Regions from separate parts of the Homo sapiens genome. Here region 1 is linked to region 2. Evidence: fine-mapped expression QTL. A gene starts in region 2. The other region holds a variant in brackets. All regions are shown on one strand. Distances are from middle to middle.

Region 1 (4,382 bases), 170 kb before region 2:
ATGCAGTCGCTGGCCGGGCGCGGTGGCTCACGCCTGTAATCCCAGCGCTTTGGGAGGCCGAGGTGGGCGGATCACGAGGTCAGGAGCTCGAGACCATCCTGGTTAACACAGTGAAACCCCGTCTCTACTAAAAATACAAAAAATTAGCCGGGTGTGGTGGCAGGTGCCTGTAGTCCCAGCTACTCGGGAGGCTGAGACAGGAGAATGGTGTGAACCGGGGAGGCGGAGCTTGCAGTGAGCCGAGATCGCGCCACTGCATGCACTCCAGCCTGGGTGACAGGGTGAGCCTCTGTCTCAAAAAATAAAAGAAAATAAAATAAATAAAAATAAATGCAGTTGCTTTCCTTCACCCTTCCTCCTCTTGCAGAGGCTGTTCCTGGGGTCTGAGCGTCCTCTGCCCAGAGTGTGCACTTACATAGTTGTCCCGGGCTGACCAGGTTGGGTAGAGCTGCGAGTGAAGCTGCCGCTCCTTCCGGGCCAGCTCGTAGTACTTGGCCTGTTCTTCTCGAGACAGGTTGTGCCACTGGGGGAGAGAGGGTCAGAGACCACACGGAGCCATCAATGCAGGGACGCTGCCTCCCTGGCCTGGAGGGAGAGGGCAGGTCTTACCTTTCTTCCAAGGATCTGGTTAATGGCTGCACTTTCCTTCAGGGTGCACTCAGCCACCACCTTGGCCCTCATCTCCTTCATATACAACATGAAGGCATTCAGAGGCTTCTTCACGTGGGGCTTCTTTTCCTCCTCCTTTTTCACGGTGACTGGTGATTTCCTGGGAAGGCACGTGGTTGTAGGTTAGCATGTCAGGTGTCACACAACTCATCAATCCCCACCTGTCACTGAAACACCGCTGATTGTCTCTGGGGAGGGGCGCGGGCTGCCTGGATGCTAATTCAAGTGGCCCCATGGCTGCACTCAACACCTGAGTACCTTCCTCCCGTAGTTTCCCACCTTTGAACGATCTCCACGCCAGATTCTTTGAAAATCTACTCTCCAATTTCCTGACAGAGGAACAGAGCATGGTGGGGTTGCTGAGATGAGCTCTCACTGGAGCTGGCAGGTGCTGGCGGCGGTGACAGGACACAGTGTGGGGCACTCTGGGCAGAACCAAGTTGGGAGGGGGTTCTCTTGGGATCTCCAGGGAGCACTGACTTTGGCTTCCTGCCATCTTTATGGTACACGGGCAAGGTAAGGACCCTGGTGCTCATCTCAGCTCGGCCACCAGCCCACCACAAGTCCTTAAGAAAACACTGTCTCCTTTCTGGGCCTCACCTTTTCATATATCTTACGGTGGGGTGTTAAAAGCTTTCTCAGGTTCTCTTTCAGCCTCTGAGACCTGACAGTAAAACTTTCCTTAATAAGAGAGAAGATGCACCATGTCCCTGAAAGGACAGGGACCCAGAAGGTCAGAGGGAGTAAGTCCCGAGGAAGAGGGAGGGCCTGGCTGGGGAGGCTGTGATGCCTGCTGAGTGACACCAAGAGAGAAGAGTACATGACATTTGCTGCTCAGAGTGTGGCCACCCCTCCCCACAGCCTGCACCCTCCCACCTGAATCCAGGCTGCCGCTTACTTACACGCTCACTGCAGGGCTCAGGCTGGGGGGTGCCGGTTCCTGCTTGACGATGGGGGAGACGATGGCAGGGTGGGGGATCCCTGAGGTGGGCAGGCCAGGGTGGGCAGGAGCCACCATGTGAGGAGAGAACCGACTGGAGACCAGGCTGTGCACCGGATAGAAACAAATGGCAACAGAGGGGTTCAGGCTGGATACCTGCCACCCAGCAGAGGACACGGTGGCTCTCTGCCTTAAGGGCACAGGCATGTCCGTGGGGCAGAGTCTCAGGACTAGAAGGCTATTTGTCGTCTTCTAGAAAACCAGGTTTGGGAGATGCTTAATGGCTCTTCCTTCTCCCCACCAACACCCAGGCTGCCCATCTGGTGCTGGAAGCAGGTGGGATGAAACACACAAAAGGGGAGGAGGGTCAGAGGCCCGGGCATACTGGGGAAAAGAAGGGCTTAGGCTGTGGGCAGCTTTCCTCTGTCCTCAGAGGTTCCACTGTCAGGTAGAGCTGGTCCCTGAGACAGAAATCCCCTTTCACCGTCTCCTCTCCTGACATCATTTCAGGAAAAATTCATCTTCTCCCAGTCCCTAGCTTCAGTGTGATATACAGACAGTCCGTGACTTAGGATATTTTGACTTTACGATGGTGCAAAAACGATATTAATTCAGTACTCTCCTTGACCTAGATGGGGTTATGTCTGGATAAAACCATCATATGTTGCAAATATTCTAAGGGGAAAGTTGTGTTTTCAATGTACGACGGGTTTATCAGGACGCGGCTCCATCCTAAGTCGGGGAGCATCTGTCCTCAAAATGCTTCAGTGCCAGAGCCCATGGCAGGAGGCAGAGTGCTAGGGCTTTGCAATCCTTCTGTTGGAGAGATGGGGACAGTGATCCTGTGGTCTCCATTCTGACCTGGGGGTGGGGAGCGCGGGACGTGAGAAGATGCTTGATCAAAGAGAG[G/T]TGGGGGGAGGGTGAGCCCTGTGCCTGCTCATTAACTGGCAAGAAAAAGCTGTTTCGTGGTCAGAAATGGCGTGGTTGCTAAGACAAACATGCGGACAGCCCCAGCCCCGGGACTCACCTGGACATCGAGGCGTTCATGGCGAGGGCGGGGTAAGGGTGCCGGAAGCCACCGGGAGGAAGGGAGTACATGGGCTGGCCTTGCCTGTGAGGGGGAGGAAATCTGGTCAGCATATTGGGAAAGCTCAGGGCAGAGGAAGAGAGGCACTTGGGAAGAAGGGATGAGAAATATGGGAAGGAAGCGGGAAGGTAATGCTGGGAGCACGCTGCCTGGGCGGGGGCAGGGAGGCCTAGTCCTGGGCTTGCCTCTGAGGGGGCTCCACTGTGCAGGGCGCGCAGGGCACAGAGGCAGAGCTCAGCGCAAGGAGGGAGCAGGGGGAAGAGAGGCTGTGGGTTCCTTACTGTGGGACGAGCCAGCCGAGGGGGTGGGGGATTTGTCCGACAGCTCCGGGAGAGAGTGGGTAATACGGTGACAGCTCGGATGGGTGAGGGGGCCGGGGGATTCCTGCTTCCAAAGAGAGATATGTCAGACTGTTCCCTCGCCCTGCCAGAGCACCTTAACGAACATCAAATGGGAGCATCCTGCCCTATGTCCCTGGTGCTCTGGAGCCTAGCAGGTGCTTGTGTCATTGTCCTTGCCCTCTGTCAACTCCCTAGCAGCTCTCACCAGTCAGTCAAGGACATATTCAGGGGAGGCAGGACTAATGCACCCCCTCTCTAGCTGCACGGATTCTATCTCTGTGAAGAGTATCTTCCAGCTGGCTGTGATACAGAAGCCAGCGTCCTGGAAGAGAGGGACAGGACCCACAAGACCAATGACAAGAGTCACTGGTGAACCAAGTCTCTAGAAAGCCCGCCTCATTCATGGAGAAATAAACTTTGGATTCCTCCTCCACATGTGTCTTCCTCATTATCTGTAACTTGTAGTGACTGTTATTTCTCCAAAGAGGGGCTCCAAAAATGCTTTGCCTTCCCCTGGCAACTCTGTGTGAATGCTATAAAGACAGTGGCTCCCTGGAATGGACAGGTCTGGTGGGCAAGTTAAAAAAAAAAAAAAGAAAAAAAAGCCAGTTCAGGTTGGGCATGGTGGCACACCGGTAATCCCGGCACTTAGGTGAGTTGACTGCTTGAGTCCAGGAGTTTGAGACCAGCCTGGGCAACATGGCAGAAACCCATCTCTACTAAAAATACAAAAATTAGCTGGGCAAGGGCATGGTGGCATGCGCCTGTGGTCCCAGCAACTCGGGAGGCTGAGGGAGGAGGACTGCTTGAGCCCGGGAGGTCAAGGCTGCAGTGAGCTGAGATCACACTACTGCACTCCAGCTTGGGCGACACAGCAAGACTGTCTTAAATAAATAAATAAATAAAAGCCAGTTTGGCCTCACTGCTTTACGGTTGCACTTCTGTGTCTGCTTAGACTGATGAATCTATTTAAAAATGTTCAGTTTAGGGCAAACATGTCTTGGTGTAGGGAAGCACGGCCCACAGCTGGGCTAGACTTGGGCAGAGCCACCCCACACACTGCCTATGGAGCCAGGCCCTGTGCTTTACTGCATTTAATTCCTGTGGGCCTTATCGTGACCCTATGGTGGAGAAGGTACAGGGGAGGCACAGATGAAAAAAAAAATGACAAGGCTAAAGTTAGCAGACAAGGTCCAAAGACTCCTGAGACAAAGAGCCATGATTTGAACCCAGGTCAGCCTGATTCAAGGGCTGTTATGTTCCCACAAAAGAGAAGCCCGCCTGCCCTGCAGCAGCACTGCCTGAGTGGCAGACGACTTACCTGTCTTTGGATCGATCTCTGGGG
Region 2 (4,382 bases):
GTCGTCTGGGGCCCGGTCAATTTGCTTAATCACCGCTCTAAATGCCAGCGGGCAGCACACAATACGCGCCCATTAACAGGTTTAAAGTGTCGCAGCGCTCGCTTTAAATGAGAAAAGCAGGCGACAAAAGGGGGAAAAAGCCAAGTTCCTCAACTTGAAGAATGCCTTGGGTCGCCTCGAAATCATCTACGCGAGTTTAAAATTCGGAGCTAGCTCCGCAGAAAAGCTGAGGCCCCGGTGCGAGGGCTGGGGGTGGGAACGGGGGCTGTGAATAACCCGCCACGAAAACTGGGTTTCTTAGGAACCAGCCTGCAGCCGCCCAGTGAACCCGGAGTCGGAGGACAACGTCGCCAACCCAGCTCCCTAGGCCCCTTGCCCCACTGCCAGAGAAAGCTGACCGATTTCCAAGAAGGAAAGCGAGACCCCCCCAAAGCGGGCACAAATCCAAGTTTCCTTCGGTGCAGGCGAAGAATTCTGGAGGCCAAGGAAGATCCCAGAGGTGGACTCCAAAACCTCAACCCGCAAGAGGGGAAAAGTTAAAGTAACTTTACTTTCATCCAGGCACTGGCCAGCGCAGCCTCGCGCTCGGCCGCCAGAGAGTAGTTCAACTCCGCAAACAAGTTCTGCTTGGGATCGGCGCAGAAGGCCCCATCCCCCACTCCATGGCCAAGCCCGGGGGCGCATCCTGCGGGCCGCGGCCTCCCACCCTCCCCGGCGCGCCCGACGGGCACTCACGGTGCGCGCTCCTCCGGGAGACAGGGGTCCGTTGGAGAGGTACGGGCTGCTCAGGTCCGGGATCATCAGGAAGGGGTACCCAGGGTACGGGGGTCCTTTAAAGAACGCGCTGTCCTGAGGCCTTCTCACTGCGAACAAGACCAAGGCGAGGTGAGGCCCAGGCCCCCGGGACTGACAGCGCCGCGGCAGGGGGCTCGAGGCGGGAGCTGGGGACCCCAGCGCCCCCCACGCGCGCCCCACGGGGGCTGCCGCCAATAAAGGCGGAGGGCAAGGGTGCGTCCACCCAAGCAAGGGGGACGGTGGGCCGCCCGGGCTGAGCAGCGGAGCGCAGCGGGAATCGAGAGTGGGGGGCTGTCCCAGCGGGCACATACCTTCGGCGAAATAGTCCCGCGGCTTCTGGAAAGTGTCCCGGACGGGCTGCGGGCGCCTCTCCGCCTGCGGAGGAGACACAAAGGCAAGAGCGGGTGAGCGGACGCAGGGCCGGGATCCCCCGGGGGTGGCCGCGGTGCTTCCTTACCTCCGAGTCCGAGCTGCTGCTCTGGTTCTCCGACTCGTTGACCAGGGACGACTTGACCTCGTCTAGGTCCCGCTGCGCCGAGGCGCTATCGCTGCTCGGCTCCTGCTCCTCGCCCCCCTCGTCCTGGAAGGGGATCAGCTCGTCGTTCGCCCCGAGGTCGTCCCCTCCGCCGGCCGCCCCGGCGCTGGAGCCGCCGCCTCCCCCGCTGCCGCCGCCGCCGCCGCCGCCCCCGCCGCCGAGCTGGGGCATGGTGGGGCCGCGGGCCGGGGCCGCCGCTCTCGGAGCCCCTAGCCGCCCGCGCCCTGCCCGGCCCGGCCCGGCGCCCCTCCCGCCCGCTTGCGGGCCCGCTGCGCTAGCCGCCGCAACAAAGTTTGACAGGGCGTGGCCCCGCGGGAAGCGGGCCCGGCGCTGCCCGGCCGGGGCGCAGGCGGCTCGGCTCGGGCCCCTCCGGCAGCGCCGAGCCTAGGGCTCCCCAACTCGCCACCGCCGCCGCCTGCTCCGCCGGGGCGTCCCAGCCCCTGGCCCGCCGGGGAGGGGCGAGCGGGGAGGGAGGGAGGAGGGACCGCCGGGCTGGGCAGGGGGGCCGGAGGGAGGAGCCCCGGCTGCAAGCTGACACCCGCGCGCCTCGCGGAACCCGGAGAGCTGCGGTGCGCGCGCACACACACACATACACACGCACTCACACTCACACGTTCACACTCGCATCTTCCAGGGGCTGCGTCTCCCTGCAACGTGCACCGCCCCCAACCCCCTCCTGCGCCTCACACTGCACCCTCGGCGGCCCTCCCCACGGCCTCCCTGGAGTCCTGGAAGTCTTGCGCCCACCCCTCCGCATCCCCTAACTTTCTCCCAAAGAACCTCCAGAACTCCGCGCAGGTTCCCACCCCCTCCCACCGTATCGGCGCGCGGGCGGGCGGCACTGCCCCCTGCGGGAAAGCCTCGGACGCACATACTGGCCGCGGGGCCCTCCCCCTGCCTAGAGTCCCTCCGAGTGCGCGAGCTGATGCACGGACTAGGACACTGGGGACATCTATGGAACCCCGGAAAATGCCCGGCGGCTTTCCGCGCCTTTTTCCTGTGGGGTTCCAACGCGACCCCCGGCCCAGGTTTTCAACCTTGTACAGATATACAGATTTCCCTGCTGAAATCTTGAAGATCACCTTTTCTTCATTGTTTGGGACTAGGTCCTAAATCGAAAAATCGCGGTCTTGGGTTCCAAAAGAATTTGGATTTGGTTCATTGAGAGGGAAAATTGCCTGTCCAGTGATCTCCGAAGCCATTCACAAAGCTGCGTGAGTAGCCAGTGAACACGAGAAAAATGCTCAACCAGCCTCATACCTAAGTAATGCCTGTGGTGCGAGCGCCACGGCCCGCGCCTGGAGTTCCATCTACTCCCGAGGCCTAGGCAGGAGGATCGCTGGAGCCCAGGAGTTTGAGACCAGCCTGGGCAACATAGCAAGACCTTGTCTCCAAAAAAAAAATTTTTTTAATAAAGAAATGCCTGTTACAATGACATTAAGATGTCGTTTCTCTCCAACCTGTGCGGGAAAGTTTGAGGAAAATGAATATCTTGTGTTATCCTCCGTGGGGAACTATTAGAGCATAAACTTTGAAAACAGCTTGGAAGGCAGTATGGAACTATGTAAAACTATTTTCAGCCCAACTGGCAGAAGAGTTTCTACAGAGGTGCCCGCACATATGGGCAAAGCCACATATGCTAGGTTCAAAGCATCAGAGAGCTTGGTGACATGCATTCTTCATCTTTCTTTACAGTGACAGTCCATGCAGCTGGCCAGTTCTATGCAGTGTCCCCGCCCCTCCCCCCACCCATACACACACACACACACACACACACACACACACACACACACACACACACAGGCACATGGACCAAGATTGATTTTGGAGGAACATCTTTAAATGAAACACTATATATGACACTCACTATTTTATTTTTGTTTTTAAAAAAATTATACACATTTATTTCTGCGTAGAAAAAAATCTGAGAAGATGCAAATTATTATCAATGACTATTTCTGGGAAAGGATAAGTGAAAGGAGATAGTTTTCTGGTTTCTATGAACTTTATAACAAGCAGATATGCCTTTTCTAATTTTTTACACAATACATGAGTACAGTCTCATAAAGCGTTTTCAAATAACAGATGTATCTTGAGCAGTATCGAGTAACAAGTAAAAGTTCCTCTTTCCCCCTCAGGACACAGGACCCTTCTAATTAACCACTTTCAGTTAACTGCCTCTGGTTAACCACTGTCACTAGTTTGGTATATATCCTTCCAGACACTTTCCTAGGCAGTTATGAACATATGTAAACGTATTTACAGATATTCTGATGTACATACATAGAATCATACTCTTTGTATTATTGTGTGTTATTTTATTTTTATAAGATTTAAAAGTCAGACGATTTTTCATGTTTATGGTCCATAAATATATGAAAAACCTATTGTACTAGTTTTCTGCTGCTACTGTCACAAATCACGAAAACTTGGTGGCTTAAAACAACAGAAGTTTATCCTCTCATAGTTGTGGAAGACAGAAGTCCACTGTCAGTTTCACTGAGTAGAAATGGAGGTGTTGACGGGGCCATGCTCCCTCTGGAGGCTCCGAAAAGAATCTACCCTTGTCTCTTGCAGCTTCTGGGGGCTTGTGACCACATCACTCCCACCCTTGCGTCTGTAATCACATTGCCTTCTCCTTTTTTTGTCTGTGACAAATTTTCCTCTGCCCCCTTCTTGTAAGAAACCATACTTGTGGCCGGGCACAGTGGCTCACGCCTGTAATCCCAGCTCTTTGGGAAACCAAGGCAGGTGGATCACGAGGTCAGGAGTTCCAGACCAGCCTGGCCAACATGGTGAAACCCTGTCTCTACCAAAAATACAAAAAATTGGCCAGGTGTGGTGGCAGGCGCCTGTAATCCCCGCTACTTGGGAGGCTGAGGCAGGAGAATCGCTTGAATTTGGAGGGAGGAGGTTGCAGTGAGCTGAGATGGCACCACTGCACTCCGGCCTTGGCGACAGAGTGAGACTCTGTCTCAAAAAAAAAAAAAAAAAAAAAAAAGTGATACTTGTGATAGCATTTAAGGACCACCTGGATAACCTGTCCATGTCA

Direction of the effects. Positions count from the first base shown, and alleles are read on the strand shown. Sizes are in standard deviations (SD) of each study's normalised expression.
For the expression in cerebellum of the gene that starts at base 1,794 in region 2, T is the low allele of the variant in region 1 and G is the other (moderate effect, 0.60 SD a copy in GTEx).

What was found. PIP is the estimated chance that this variant, and not a neighbour inherited with it, causes the effect.
Region 1: its variant is fine-mapped to the expression of TCF7L1 in cerebellum (GTEx, PIP above 0.99). The same link has a PIP of 0.9 or more in cerebellar hemisphere.

The regions. Positions count from the first base shown.
Region 1 is chr2:85,302,593-85,306,974 of GRCh38, reverse strand. It overlaps TCF7L1 (transcription factor 7 like 1), which reads right to left. Exons shown (of 12, transcript NM_031283.3): 5 at 4,359-4,382; 6 at 2,978-3,080; 7 at 2,637-2,720; 8 at 1,572-1,715; 9 at 610-769; 10 at 416-523. Among named protein-coding and RNA genes, the nearest start is that of TGOLN2, 23 kb to the left of the region's middle. RefSeq lists an enhancer at 262-762. The variant G/T (reference allele first, on the strand shown) is at 2,519.
Region 2 is chr2:85,130,804-85,135,185 of GRCh38, reverse strand. TCF7L1 (transcription factor 7 like 1) reads right to left here and starts at 1,794. Exons shown (of 12, transcript NM_031283.3): 1 at 1,253-1,794; 2 at 1,107-1,170; 3 at 736-863. The coding sequence starts at 1,501. RefSeq lists enhancers at 1-34, 35-609, 1,185-1,759 and a silencer at 2,125-2,194.